4 linked regions of the Homo sapiens genome follow. The protein of the gene in region 3 interacts with the protein of the main gene of each other region in a pairwise test. Each region holds a gene or a part of one and is shown on either strand. Other genes may lie near its edges.

Region 1 (3,500 bases), on a different chromosome or scaffold from region 3:
TTGTCCCTGAGCCTGTGTCTTCACCAGCTCTACCCCACCCTAGGCTTGGGGTGAGGAAAGAAAGAAGGCAAGTAACACCTTGAAAACATACTGAGGCCAAGCATCTGCACACATCATCTCAGAGAAGGCTACCATGTGCCCCATGGGGTCTGTCCTATTATCAGTCCCATTTTACAGATGAGGAAGAGAAAGTCAGACAAAGTGATGCACCCACGGTCACACACCTGGTAATCAGCTGAATGGAGACAGAAGTGCGAGGTGTGAGCCACATGTTATTTTCTTAGGATTCACGGGGGACATGCATTCCTTGTCTCTATAAAAGCCAGTGTTTACTGAATACAGATTGTAGGTGAGCACCTCTCCCTGCCAGGCACTATGCAACCATCTGTGTCCATCTGAAAATGACCTTGTGAGGCAGGCATTCTCTTACCGTCCAATTTCAGAGATTAGGAAACTGAGGTTTGTAGAGATAACACAACTGGCCCAAATGTCACACATCCAGCTAGGCAGTGACATGTCCAGGATTTGGAGTCAGATCTGATGGACTCTAGAGCCACTGCTCATACACACTTGTCTGGGTGGAGGTTAGGAGGAGCCGGTAGCAGTGGAGCTCAGTGGTTCAATTGGCTCTGACAAGGGACACCCAGAAAAGGTCAAAAACAAGGTCACAACTGCCGTGGGGGGTTGGGGAGATGGCAACTGCTTTGAGGATGGGAGAGGGGCAGAGCCTGTAGGAGCCCCAGGTGAGGGTACAAGCTAGGGTCCTGGCTAGAGTGATCTGCTTGGTCTACCCAGAGCCCCCATACCAGGTAACACCAGCCCTGCCCTAGTGTGAGGATACTGAGGCTGACCCAAAAAGGGCCAGTGGAGCCCTGTCTTGTTGGTCCCCAGGGTTCTAACCTGTGCTCTGGGGCCAGTGTGCCTGGAACTAATCACCTCTCTAGAGCCCCTAGTGCTGTGGAAGGCGGGGCAGGATCCCCTCCCTCCCTCCTAGGCCCTGTGAGCCCAGAGGGAGGCCAGCATCAGAGGCAGGAAATGAAGAAGAATTTGCGATCTAATTGAGCTGGCGGGGGATTAGGCGGCAGAATGCAATTACAGGGGCTGGAGCGGGGCCAGGGCACTGACACCCCAAGATGTGGCCTGGCCCAGGTGACTTGGCCCAGTCAGTCTCTGGCCAGAGACACTAGACTTGGGGTTGGGAGTATGGGTACAGGGAAAGGTTGGGACCAGACTGCTTCTCAACATACAGAGGACTGTGGGGTTCCAGCTCCATGTAATACCCAGAAGCAAGAAGTTTTCCTGGGAATCCTCCCCCAGGGAACAAGCCTATGGACTCTCATCTGGGGATCTGGCAGCCAGACACACATGCTCTCACAGGCTCCGTTCATACATGTGCAAGCATGTGCTCACACTCCCAGGTAAGCCCCACATATCCACATTCACCTGCATAGGGGCAGGCTTCCCAGCATGGAGACACACAGGCTGGCCCTTTGCTGCCACTGGCTCCACCAAATGGTGGGTTGTGGGGGCACAACCCCCTCCCTCCAGAAAACCCACCCATGACCTTAAAATCCTTTTATTCCCGTAATCACATGCTACCATTGCCGTGGATACACGCTGTCACCCCAGCCCCAGCCTGTCTCCCTCTGCGGCTTCCAAAACTCCCAGCAGGCAGGCAGACGGGGAGGCTGCCCAGTTACTGCTGGGGAGGGAAGGGGTGTAGGGGTTGCAGGGGGAAGGACTGGGTGTGAGAGGTTCAGTTCTACACACACACACTCCATGCTACACACACATTCAGGGCCTCAAACAACCAGAGGGGGAGATTCAGTAAGACGGAGATACAGAAAGAGAAAGGAAAACATAGCCAGCCGCCACCACAGACAGAGAGAAACCACTGTCCATACAGCACAGACAGGCCCACTCCCACATTCACAATTCAGACACACTCTACTCAGAGTCAGATCCCCCAGATTTATAAGCATATACAAAGCACACAGATACACACAAATCACAAATCCAAACTCTCCAAAATTCCAAGCACACACAGCTCACAGAATATATTCATTCCCAGATTCACAGGGACATAGCCAATCTTCAGAAATACAATCTCAGATTCACAAACACACATGTACACATACACTACAGATCCACACACTTCTAGATCAGGACAAATATACATGCCCTGATTCATAAATCCATGTATGTTCAGACTCCCACACCCTGAGACAGACATTCAACACAGAGATTCACAGATATAGATACACTACTTAGAGACACACATGTCCTGAGTCATAAGCACACATCACCCAGATTCCCACATCCCAGAACAACAGACTAGTGCCCACACAGCCTCATCTCTGTCAGCTGACACTGCCTCTGGCTTTAGGGGGCAGGTGGAGGGTTGGAGATTCCTGGGTCTTTAGGGGGCAGTCCTTTCTCATTGCTCGAATCCAGGAAGGGTGGGCTCAGCGTTGGGGGGAGGTGAGGGGGAAGTAAGAGAAAGCAGAAAAAAACTTTAGTGGGATATTCTTGTTGGGCAGTAGCGCGTGAGTAACGGGGGAGGCTTTTTGTGGTCTGGTGAGTTCCAGCTATGAGTGAGAGTTTAACTATTAATACACTTAATCAAGGACACTTCACACACACATACACAGCCACACACACACACACACACACACACGCGCGCGCGCGCGCGCGCGCGCGCCGGCGGCTAGGATGGGACCAGGTGGTGGGGGTAAGAGAGGGAGAGCCCCAGAAAAAAGAAAAGAGGGAAAGCCCCAATCAGGGCCCCAGGGGGCGGGGAAACGGGGCGGAGCTTCTATCCTGGGCCTGCCTCCAGAGCTGGAGCAGTGATTCATTTGTGTACCACCAGAAGGGTGGGGTTTGATACACAGTAGGTGCTCAATACAAACATATTGGGCCAACAAATGAATAACATATAAAGAGTGGGCAATAGTAACGTAATAACAATGTGTGAACCCCCCCATTCTTGTTCAATTAGGGCATGCCCCAGAGCATCATGCTTGTTAATTCGGACTAAATGATCAAGCCACCAGACAGGGGCTCTAGGAACCCAGGCTTGGGTCTGGCTCACCCGTATTCCCTCATTCCTCCACCCTATCCTGCAACCTGGAAAGTCAGCCCAGCCCACATCCCTCTCTCCCTCCTAGCAAGACTCCCTCCACTCCATCCTCCCATAAACAACAAGGTGCAGTCAGTCCTGAAGAAGGCAGGGTATTTCATTCCCCTGGACTTGTTTCTTCACCCAGATACAAGCCTGCCCCCACACTCCTATGGGTCTCAGTTTCACATGTGCCAAATGAGTAGGAGGCAGGCAGAGCAGGAAAGGGGCAGCAAGAGTTGAGGGTCACAGTGGGAACCCATGGAACATGGGCCTGTGCTGGCCGGTGCCCTGGATGCAGAATCCTCCCCTCCCCTTCCCCCACCCACCCCAGCCCAGCCCAGCCCAGCCTAGCCCAGCTGGGTGGACATTCCAGGCCTCA
Region 2 (3,500 bases), on a different chromosome or scaffold from region 3:
AAAAAAAAAAAAACTATGTTGAAAATCACATGAAATTCCAGTTTCAGGGCTCATAACAAAGTCGTCTCAGCCACACCACGCTCACTTGCATGCGTATTGCCCGGGACTGCTTCTGGCCAAGTGGAGTCCTCGGGACAGAGACTCTGTGGCCCACAAAGCTAAACACACACATCCCCTGGCCTCTTACAGGAGCGGCTGGCCAGCCTGGTGCAGATCTGTGTTCTCTAACTCACTATCACGTGGGGTGGCAACACATCACGAGTGCCTGAAACAGATGCTACCAATCCCTTACCTTGAAGAAGAAGCCGACCCCCGGCTTCTGGTCGCCTTCGCTGACAAGGTCCGCCGAGCCATCGAGGCTTACCAGCTCCCCATCCTCGTCGGGGGCCTTCAGGTCGGAGAGGTCCACTTCAATGAGGCTGGCCCTGCTCCTCAGAGGCTCCTCCACGGGGACGCTCTCTTTTCCCGAGACATCTGAGGAGCTGGACCCCACCTCCTTCACACTCGCATCCAGAACTTCTTTGAGGCTCATCTGCTCCGAAAGAATGTTGGCATCTTTGGAAGAGGACAGAGTAAGTGTCCGCTGATTGCTTTCATCATGGAGCCTGTAACTGTCGAAGAGACACTTCCCATGTGGGTCACCACTGGGCTCCAGGGCACTGTCCAGGCCAGGGTCCGTGGGCGTCCGAGGGTGGCTGCTGGCAGGGAAGGGTCTCAAGTGCGGGAGCGTCTCTACACTGGGCGTTGGGGTTTTACTTCGGGAGGAGCCCTGTGGCCTGTCTTTTGGGACCTTCAGCTCCGCCGGCCTTCCGGAACGGGAATTCCGGCCTTGACCCAGCCGGGGGGCTTTGCGGTGGCCAGCCACGCCCGTGGGAGAGAGTGGCTCCACGAAGTGGACTGGTGCCTTCACTTTGTGGTCCTGCGAGTTATTCTTAGAGCCTGGCACTGGGACTGTGGGGGACTTCATCAGAAGCTGCTCTTGCTGCTGAGAGATTTTCAGGATGGCCTGCTGCAGCGTACTGATGGTTTCGTTAAGCTTCTCGATGGAAAGGTCACATTCATTCACGTCGACAACCTCCCCAACAGTGTCCTCCAGGAGGGCAGCGGAGATCACCTTATTTCTCTCCAGCTCGTGCAGAGCCACAGGGTCTTTTGCTTTATGTTGCTGAGCAAAGGCCAGGCTCTCTTTGTCCACATCCTGTGGCTCGTGAAGGAGCTCCTCTCTCTGCTCCTCCTTCACGAGAAAGTCTTCGGTTTTGGAAACAGCGTCCCCACAGTCCTCCCCGTTGTGCTGAGAGTACTCCTTTGCAAAGTGCTCCGGCCTGAGGGGTGGGGCAGCCTCGGCCTTGCCCTTCTTCACCACATGCAGGAATGCAGCCTTGCCGAGCTTCAGGCGCTGCCTTGCCGACAGCGCCTCCATCTTCTTCTTCTGGGCCTCGATGGCCCTGCGCTTCTCCTCCAGCTGCATGTGCAGCTGTACCAGCTCAGATGCCAGGAGGCTGGCGGGATCCTTGCCATGCTGGCTCGGACTCTGCTCCCTCTTCTGCCTCCACGTCGTCAGAGGGGCTGGGCAGCTCTCAGACGCATCTGGCGTGGTCTTCTGGGAGCTGCTGGTGCTGGACTTGGTCTCACAGCTGTTGAGTCTCTGGAGCTTCCTCTCCGCAAAGCTGGTCATCTTCACGCTCCCACTCGCCATGGAGACACTGCTCATCTGAGAGGCTGTGCTCAGGCAGGGGCTCGAGCGGCCGCTGGCGTCATCTTTGTCTTCATGTTCCTTCACCTTCATGTCCTCCTGCAGTTTGGCCGACTCTTCCTCCCCAATGTATCTGCTGAAAACCACAGGATGGGCCTCACCCATGAAATCGTGCTCGGCTTCCTCTATGTCCACCACATCCGAGTCAGAATCCTGCCTGAGGAGAGTCCACGGCTCTGAATCGTGGGAGTTGGGGCTTTTTGAACAACTAACATATAACCTTCCCTCGGTGTCTTCATCGGCCCTGCCTACATGAAGGAAGAAGCCATCCGTGGATGGTCCCTGGGGGAACGGATCGAATCCGCCAAGGGCCAGAGGCCCACCACAGACCTCTCCTGCGGTTTCCACTGACAGTGGTCCTGTCTCGGTGGGGTCGATGCCCATGGGGAATTCTGAGCATGGAATCGGGGTAAAAGTCCTATTCAAGTCGCGACTGCCAGTCATTTTCCTTCGTACCAAAGGCTGGGGGCCCTCGCTGGGCCTCCTAGACACGATGCTCCTCGGTCTCCCTTCCCCCCGTTCATCCTCCTTGGTGATCACCTGCTTCTCTTTCGCTGGCTTAAGAACTGCTGGCATCAAAGGCTCCAAGAAAAAACTGTCAGGCTTACTTTCCGAGGTGTCCAGCTGTCCTTGGGGAGACCGGGCATTTGCTGTAAGGCCTAAGGCCCGGGGTGAGGCCCTGGGGAACTCCGGGTCAGCCTGCTGGGGAACCACGTCTGCTCTAACAATAGCCACAAGCTCCTCTTCCTCATCCTCAATACTGACATTGCTCAGGAGGCTCTTCCCGTGGCTCTTCGTGGCCGTGGGGTGTGGCTGGTTCTGTGGGGTCAGATTAACAATGTTGGATGCCAAACTGTCTTTGCTGATGGAGCGGGCCAAGCTGATGCTGTCGCCAGAGCTGGGATCCACTTCACAACTCGCAGCGTGATGTAGAGCAAAAGGTGTTGGCTGGGACGCAGGCCTGAAACACAGGGAAGGCCCACTGGGTGCGCTGCGGTATACACCAAAGACCCCCAACATGGACCAGGGGGTGAGAATGCCGGCCACACAAAGAGAATACGCCTCTCATATGCAGGAGATTTAAACTCACTCTTCCACAGAGCAGAAGAAAATCAGAGATAATTTCAGCTTTGTGATTCTCAAACACTCTAGTCCCAGGACCTCTTGATACCCTTCAAAATTACTGAGGACCTCAAAGAGCTTTTGTTTCTATTTATCAGTATTAATCTCTATTTATCATCCTACAAATTAAAGCTCAGACATTTTCTAAACACTGATTAAAATTACAGTAATTAGCCCACTCCATGACAAATGACTATATTCGCCAGAACGGAAGAAGTTCCTAGTGTTAAGGGCAGGCACTATTTGACACCTGTATAGTTCTGGGATCTGGCTGGACCCTCATACCTGACTCCACCTGCTGCCACACCACATGGTATGCAGCCTCTGAAAAATCCCACGGCACACTCGCAAGAGTGAGGCTGCAGAGAGGCAGTAACTTCCTAGTGTTGTTATAAAAATAATTCTGATTTCAGGCACTCCCTATAAAAGGGTCTCGGTGATCCTCAGGGGGTTGGGGTGACATCTTAAGAACTGCTGTTTAGTATAAAAAACATTCCAAACAGAAACACTGCTGAAACACAGACTCACCTGGTTTTTTTTTCTGGCCAGGCTATTGCTGCTCCTCGAGGCTGACCATCAACTCGGGTCAAAGAATTCGATCGATGTCGCTGATCTGCAGTACAGA
Region 3 (4,151 bases):
AAAAAAAAAAAAAAAAATACATATATATATATGTATATGTATGTATGTATGTATGTGAGTGAAATCCTCATCTTTTATGGTAGAGAGTCAATGACATTATCTAAAAGGTGATAAATTTGGAAATAGATATGTAAGCATATTATATATTATCTAGAGTTACTGTCATAATTCTTAGTAATAATAGAGAGAAATATGAAAGAACTAAGCAAGAATTATTTAGAAGAGTTTGTCTCCGGGTATAAATAGGACAGATCTTGGTTCTAATCACACCACTGATTTGTCAACCACAGGCAAGTATTAATAAAAACTCATAAAAAGTAAATGTTCTAAAACTGCTCTAAAAAATAAAGTCTTAAAAAAAGGTAAATGTTTTGGAATAAACAGACAATTACAATAACAATGACATTAACCCCGAAGTCTGCCATCTGCCTTTGACACCATACATCTATCTCTTTCTTAACAAACAATAATTTTCAGTTATATGGACAGAAAATAAACTAAGAAGGGTAAATAAAAGGTTTTAAACTAAAACTGCTACAGGTGAGGGTGGCAGAGAAACAAATAATTTCTTCCCCTTTTCTAAGCTATTGTATACGTATGCTGCCTTATGACACCAGAGAACAAACATTCAACATCACCATCAAACAGTGACATGGATCATAAACCATTAAATTCCCCTTAATGTATTCATATTCCACAACTATGCAGGAAAAAAAAAGATTATGTGCCTCATGAATAGTCTGAAGTGAGGAGTTGACACAGCGAATGTGTATGGCTTCTTTGTCAATGACCCTTCATCAAAATGTTAACGATGTTCAAGTAAACACTCACTTCTTTATGAAGAAGAATTTGAATCATCTCTGTGACTTCAGTTTTAATGTAAAATATCTACGGTATATTCCTAACACTGATAAAAATATAATGCCTCCTATCCATCTGAATGTAGAGACTTCTATTTCTTCATGGCCTGTAGATCTGAGGCACCAAGAGAAAAGAAAGGATACATTTCCCTTTATCATAACAACTATCTTGATAATATATTTTTACCATCTGGGTAAAATCAAAGCCAGTGGATGTTTGCAAAGAAAACTGATAGTTTCATCCTAGTTGTTATTTGACCTGACTGGCTCCGTTGCCTTAAATGTGCACTGATCATATTTTTAAATACTTTCACTCACAACACAGCTATCCCTAATTACTTAATTCCACTTCCACATCTCAACTGCTGCTTGTAAATATGACAGTGCGCTTACAGACACTCATGCCTATCTTATGCCACTTTTAAACACCATGCTATCTTTACATCTCAGTGTCACACGGGGGGAGACAGCGGAAGGAGTTACAGGGCACATGGGCATGCAAAGCAGAGCTGGAAAAAAAACACTTCTGTCTTTTTAAAAAAAGTCATGTGGTTTTGATATAATATGAATATTTTATATAAAAAAGAAATTACACTCCTGAAATAACCTCCAGCCAAATGGAGTAAAATCATCATGTACCACAACAACAGTCTTGCATGGCTTCCACCAGAACTGTGCCAGGTAAAGTGTGTCTGAGGACTGGGGACCCTTCACCAACTGTTGGGTACGAGTCTGTGAAGAAATTAGTACTTAGAAACTTTTCACAGCAATTTGACAGAGTTTCTAGTTTACACTTGTTTAAATAATTTTTAAAATTGGGCTTATATTTTCTAAGTCTTTTTAAAATTTCATTTGCCTAGTAATTTGTCTGTACTATAAAAGTGTTCGTTTGAAGGACTGGAAATTAAAAAAATAAAAACTGATCCCTCACCACACATAACTTGGAAAGCACTGAAGTCAATTATTGAAGTGGATGTGTGAATGAAAAGAAAATGGGAATGCAGCCTTCAATGTATCTAAAATGGATGGCTAAAAAATGAGATTTCAAAGGCAAAACTTAAGCTTTATGATAAATAGGAACTCAGCAAACTTGTTTAACATTAACATTTTTATTATTCCTAAAATATTTACTTTAAATATGGATAGCTAACTAGATATAAAATCTACTTTTTCTATTAAAAAAACACAAGTAAGAAAAACCTCTGTAACTTAAATATTACCTTAAATTAATATAATCGTTACCCATCTTTCCTTCTGGAAATTCACACCTAAATTATGATAAAATGAAATATATTTACCATATGTAAAACACTCACACTATCATTCCTAAAAGAATCTTACAGAACATGAAAAACTAAAGGCCAGGTATGGTGGCTCATGCCTGTAATCCCAGCACTTTGGGAGGACGAGGCAGGTGGATCATGAGGTCAAGAGATCGAGACCATCCTGGCCAACATGGTGAAACCCCGTCTCTACTAAAAATACAAAAAGTAGCTGGGCATGGTGGCACGTGCCTGTAGTCCCAGCTACTCAGGAGGCTGAGGCAGGAGAATCGCTTGAACTGGGGAGGTGACGGTTGCAGTGAGCAGAGACTGCGCCACTGCACACCGGCCTGCCAACAGAGCAAGACAAAAAAACAAAAGACATGAAAAACTAAAATGTCAAATAGTTCTTTAAAATTAGGCTTTTGAATATTCAAAAGGAAAACCAGGTACATTTTACAAGATATTTCTTACAAGTTGTTAAATTTTACAACTACATTATTCAGGAAGACAGAAATGATTTATTAATGAACATTTTTCCATTTGGATATATTTTGGATGCTTAATGTAATTCAAATCTTTGAAACACAAAATGGAATCCAGTCATTTTTGTTATAAGCTTAGACATTATTGACTTTTTTTTTTAAGTAAGCGAAAAGAGTCAAAATGAACCAGGGAAGAAGGGTGGAAAGCAACTCGCTCCAGGATTTAGGGGAAACGCATCAGATTTGCCAAGCATGTGGAACCTTCTAATACCTTCTCAGCCAGGGCCTCAGTCCCTGAATGGGCTGTGGGAGGCATCCACACACAGGTAGATGTTAAGTTCTGGGAGCTTGAAGGATCACTTAGCTAAGACTGAGGTAGGCTGGGCATAAATCACTTATTGGATACTGTTTTAAGGTTAAGTGAACCTGCCTACGTAGACAGGACCATCTCTTCACTGGACATGGGCAATTTCCCTGAGCTAATGTGCCAGCGCTTTGGTTTCCTGGGATGAGGCAGATGGCCAAAGAGAGAAAGCTCTCCTAAAACTGTGTTCTTGTGTGAAATGCCACAGAAACACTCAATCTAAGAGAATCACAGTGAAACCCTGTTATAGCCAGTGTGAAGGAACAAAGACAAACACCAGGCTTCTCCAAGAGGAGGAGGAAATATATACATATTTCTTACACACATATATATAATATACATACACACACACACACACACAGGGGTGTGAAGGGTTTTAGAAAGATACTTTCCTATACAATCATGCACTGTGTAATCATGTTTTGCTTGAGGGACCAATATAAGACAGTGGTCCCCCAAGATTATGATACTGTACTTTTGCTGTACCTCTTCTATGTTTAGATCTGTTCATATACATTCAATACCATTGTGGTTAGGATTGCCTACAGTATTTAGTACAGTAGCATGCTGTGCAGGTTAGTAGCCTAGGAGCAATAGGCTACACCATATAGCCTAACGGTGTAGCAGGCTCATGGTTTGTGTAAGTACACTCCAGGGTGTTCACACAAGGAAGAAATTACTTACTGATGCATTTCTCAGAATGTATTTCCATCATTAAGTGATACCTGTCTGTACTTAAAACCATTTTTAAAAATAACTGCCTGGAATGATTTCCAGCAACTCTTTCATTGGCTGTTTTCAGACCTAGACATGAGATATCTTCTACTTACCTGAACTTGAACAAAGTAGCAGCCAAAAACCCTGCCTTAGTTCAGTTTAGTACAGTTCAGTTCAGTTGTTTGGGGCGGGGGGAGGAGGATGTTTAATTTTTACAGCTCATCATTATCAAGGCCATTTTAAAACCTTTCAGGACCCCAAGAACTGGTAAAAGATTATGTTGACTTGTCCCAGATACCTCAAAATAAAACTTTTATGGCAGTTTTCTCCGATTAGCCATCTGCCTCATTTTCAAAATCACACAAAGCTTACCAGCATAATGAAATCAAATGAAAATATCTTCTTTCTAGATTTTCCTGACTAGTTTATCTTCATTCCTTCACACTGGCTATAACAGGGTTTT
Region 4 (3,500 bases), on a different chromosome or scaffold from region 3:
GTAAACACTAGCCCTCTCACCCAGAGAGTAAAGTATCAGTTTCACCATCTTTGATGACAAGTTCAGCAAATAGACACTATTGACCTTATTCACATCATTTGTGGCTGAGAGCTCTCCTGCATATCTAGCCTCCAATGCTGGGAGAATGCCGTTGTCATGGCTGTGAAGACAGCCAGGAGGCGCCCGATTGGTCTATTTACTTTGCTGGCAGAGCTCACAGGCAAACAAGCACCCAGCAGCTTCTGAAGTCAGGCCAAATTCTGCAGGGATTTGAGGCTGGGTTACTGAGCAGCCTCTTTACTTCTGCTGTCCTGTTTGCCTGAACTGTGGGCTCCTTGGGACAGGCACTCAGCCTTGTCCACCACTGTATGGCCAGCCCTGGGCACAGTGCTGGGCCCAGCCTGATGCCCACCAAGTGCTTGCCAAGTGAGGAGGTGCTGAGGCCAGGAGGAAGGACACTTTATCTTCCTCTTTCTCAAGGGTGATTGGGATGGATGTCACTGAAGCAGGAGGGATGAGAATGGGAATGGGAGGTGAATCCTGGCTCTAGCTGTCTCTACTCCTACACGCCCAGGGGACCCTGGCAAGTGGGTTTCTGGTAACCTCAGTTTCCTTGTTGATGGGAAGGTCTGTCCTGCCTGGCTGGGGGGAGGGTGAGAAGGTGCATGGCAGGTGTTGAGCTCAATATCTGCACTGAGAGTCAGTGCTGAACTGCTGAGGAGGGTGGTCAGGGGTGACTGTGGAGCCTTCCTGCTGTTTCAGGGCTCAAAGCTGTGCGCTGTCCTTATGGGTCCCTCAGGGGACTCCCGAGGCCAAAGTAATAACTCATGGGGATGGGGCAGAGAACTAGCAGGTGCTGAGACCTGCGATGTGTCACATACCCCCACTGACTCTCACCTGGCTGGCCCTCAGGCTGGGTAGGACACAGCCTATAAAGGTGAAGAGAATGAGACTTGGAGAAGTGATGGCACTGGCGAGGGCTACAGCTCACAGTGACAGACCTGGGATGCCTGCCCTGGTCTCTGTGATCTCCAAGCCCTTCTGCTCTGGACACATGATCAGGCTCTGTCTCCAGGGCCCCTCACCTGCCAGATCCTCACCCCCCTTTTAAACAGTTAATTTTACCCTTAAAAAAAGTACAGTTGCCTTTCAAATTATGGAAGTAGTGCAGACTTGTTGAGAAAAACACAGAAGGGTATGCAGGATCTTATGACACAGCCTCCTTAACCATGATCCTGCTCCTCAGAGTTAGCCCCTGAGTCCTTCGGTATAGACTCTTCCGGTGCCTTCTATGAAACATAAGGATTTTAAACAATGGGATCCCCAACTTGTCAGGAACTTATTTAATATATATATAAACCAGCCTTATCCTTTTCAATGACTCCAGAGTATTCCACCATATGGCTCTACCACAGTTTACATAACCAGTTCCCCACAGATGGGCACGTTCCTATTTTTGCTCTTATGAGCAGTCCTGCAGTAAATAAGCTGGCATGGGAATCTCTGAGCATGCTGAGCAAGTACTTACACAGGACACGTTCCTAGAAGTGGGAATGCAGGGTAAAAGAAATGCACACTTGGCCAGGTGTGGTGGCTCACACCTGAAATCCCAACACTTTGGGAGGCCGAGGCGGGAGGATCACCTGAGGAGTTCGTGACTAGCCTGGCCAACACAGTGGAACCCCATCTCTACTAAAAATACAAAAATTAGCCAGGCACGGTGGTGCACGCCTGTAATTCCAGCTACTTGGGAGGCTGAGGCAGGAGAATCGCTTGAGCCCGGGAGGCAGAGGTTTCAGTGAGTTGAGATCGTGTGCCACTGCACTCCAGCCTGAGCGACAGAGCCAGGCTCTGTCTCAAAAAAAAAAAAAAAGAATCACACATTAAGAAGTGTTGGCCCACACTACCCTTTCACCCCTGGTGGTGGGAGGACCAAGTCCTCCCCACCCATCTGACAGGTGAAATGGCATTGCAACTTAAGGTGCTTTCTTTGAGTTGGTTAGACTGAAAAACCTGTCGGGATTTCAGGCCATTCGTATTTGTCTTACTGTTACCTGTTCTGATTTTCCTGCTAGGTTGCTTGTCTTGTAGAATTTTTGGGAACTTTTCATACACTACAGCTTTAACACAAAGTGATTATGTCAAGTAACCCTCTCTCCTGTTTCAATGACTGAACAAGGAAGTCTATCTCCACTTCATCCACTTATTGATAAACAGAATCTATTAAACACCACCGCCTACATAGTACCATGTGACTGGTGAGGCAACCTCTGCCCTGGACGTTTCCCGCTGTGCCCTAAATCCCACAACGAAGCTGCCTGAGAGGTCACCGCCATGCCTGCCTCACCCTACCCCTGCTCCCAGGCACCTCACCTGGCCTGCACGGGAACAGTGATGCTATTTGGGAAACAGCCCTGGTCCCAAGAAGGGGTGTGGAGGAAACTCCAGGACAGAACACTGCTCTGCAGGGGACTTCCATCTGCCTGGGCTCAGATGTGGGGATGAGGTGGGCCACGGCAGGCGGCATAGCCACAAACCCTGTGGCCGTCTCTTCTCCTTGCATTCTCCCCTGAATCCTCATGACATCCCACACTCATTCTTAGTCCCCACTGTCTTCCCTTTGCTTTCTAACCCTCCCTACCTTCTTCAGATTTAGAACAGTATGTGCTACTGGCACTGAGTGAATTATCACTCCTGGTTAGCTGTTCCTCTCTTCTGAGACAGGCTGTGTCTCCAAAGCCATCCCAGTTACCAGCCAATAGACAGGAAGTTGCTTACTCGGGGAATGGCGGACACCTTCACTTTGGCCCTAGAATCACATTTGGCCTACTTTGGTCACTCCCAGGTGATCCTGGGTGAGATGAGAAGGACTGAATGATGGCTCTATACTCCCTCCACCCAACTCTATACACTGAAGAGGAAGAACTTCTGCAAAATTCTGGGACTTGCTTTGCAGGTTCAAGGTGGTGTGGCTCCAGGATTCAGACCCATCTTAGCTGCAGACCCAAACAGGAGCCTGCGCTACCTCCACAGCCTTCACCCTGCCTTAGCTTGGACACTAACTGCCTCCTCCTGCTCCATGCAGTCACAGGGGTCCAGAGCCCATTTCTGCGGGGTGGGCTTGCTCCTCTGCCTGAGTCACCGCCTGTGGCTAGGATCTCCTGCAGCTGAAAGCAGCAGCGAGTGCAGGGTGTCTACTCCCAGCAGTATATCCTTATGACCCTGAGTTCCCTCTAAGGGGAGGAGCGAGGATGAGCTGCATGTGCAGGCCTGCAGCACTTGGGTAAGGAGAGAAGTGGTGGGAGAAAGCAAGAAGCAGAGGGATCAGGCCAGGCGCGGTGGCTCCTGCTTGTAATCCCAGCACTTTGGGAGGCTGAGGTGGGTGGATTGCTTGAGCCCAGCGGTTCGAGACCAGCCTGGCCAACATGGTGAAACCCCATCTTTACTAAAAAAATACAAAAATTAGCCGGGCGTGGTGGTGCACGCCTATAATCCCAGCT

What was found. The genes of interacting proteins can lie anywhere in the genome.
Region 1: the proteins of SMAD9 (region 3) and CXXC5 interact in a two-hybrid assay, tested with the Homo sapiens proteins (one large-scale study listed by BioGRID and IntAct).
Region 2: the proteins of SMAD9 (region 3) and CAMSAP1 interact in a two-hybrid assay, tested with the Homo sapiens proteins (one large-scale study listed by BioGRID and IntAct).
Region 4: the proteins of SMAD9 (region 3) and PPARD interact in a two-hybrid assay, tested with the Homo sapiens proteins (one large-scale study listed by BioGRID and IntAct).

The regions. Positions count from the first base shown.
Region 1 is NC_000005.10:139,651,349-139,654,848, reverse strand, and holds part of CXXC5 (CXXC-type zinc finger protein 5), read right to left. Parts: intron 1-3,500. UniProt on the Homo sapiens protein: May indirectly participate in activation of the NF-kappa-B and MAPK pathways. Acts as a mediator of BMP4-mediated modulation of canonical Wnt signaling activity in neural stem cells.
Region 2 is NC_000009.12:135,820,547-135,824,046, forward strand, and holds part of CAMSAP1 (calmodulin-regulated spectrin-associated protein 1), read right to left. Parts: intron 3,489-3,500; coding exon 3,404-3,488; intron 2,715-3,403; coding exon 293-2,714; intron 1-292. UniProt on the Homo sapiens protein: Key microtubule-organizing protein that specifically binds the minus-end of non-centrosomal microtubules and regulates their dynamics and organization. Specifically recognizes growing microtubule minus-ends and stabilizes microtubules.
Region 3 is NC_000013.11:36,874,863-36,879,013, forward strand, and holds part of SMAD9 (mothers against decapentaplegic homolog 9), read right to left. Parts: intron 1-4,151. UniProt on the Homo sapiens protein: Transcriptional modulator activated by BMP (bone morphogenetic proteins) type 1 receptor kinase. SMAD9 is a receptor-regulated SMAD (R-SMAD).
Region 4 is NC_000006.12:35,412,058-35,415,557, reverse strand, and holds part of PPARD (peroxisome proliferator-activated receptor delta), read right to left. Parts: intron 1-3,500. UniProt on the Homo sapiens protein: Ligand-activated transcription factor key mediator of energy metabolism in adipose tissues. Receptor that binds peroxisome proliferators such as hypolipidemic drugs and fatty acids.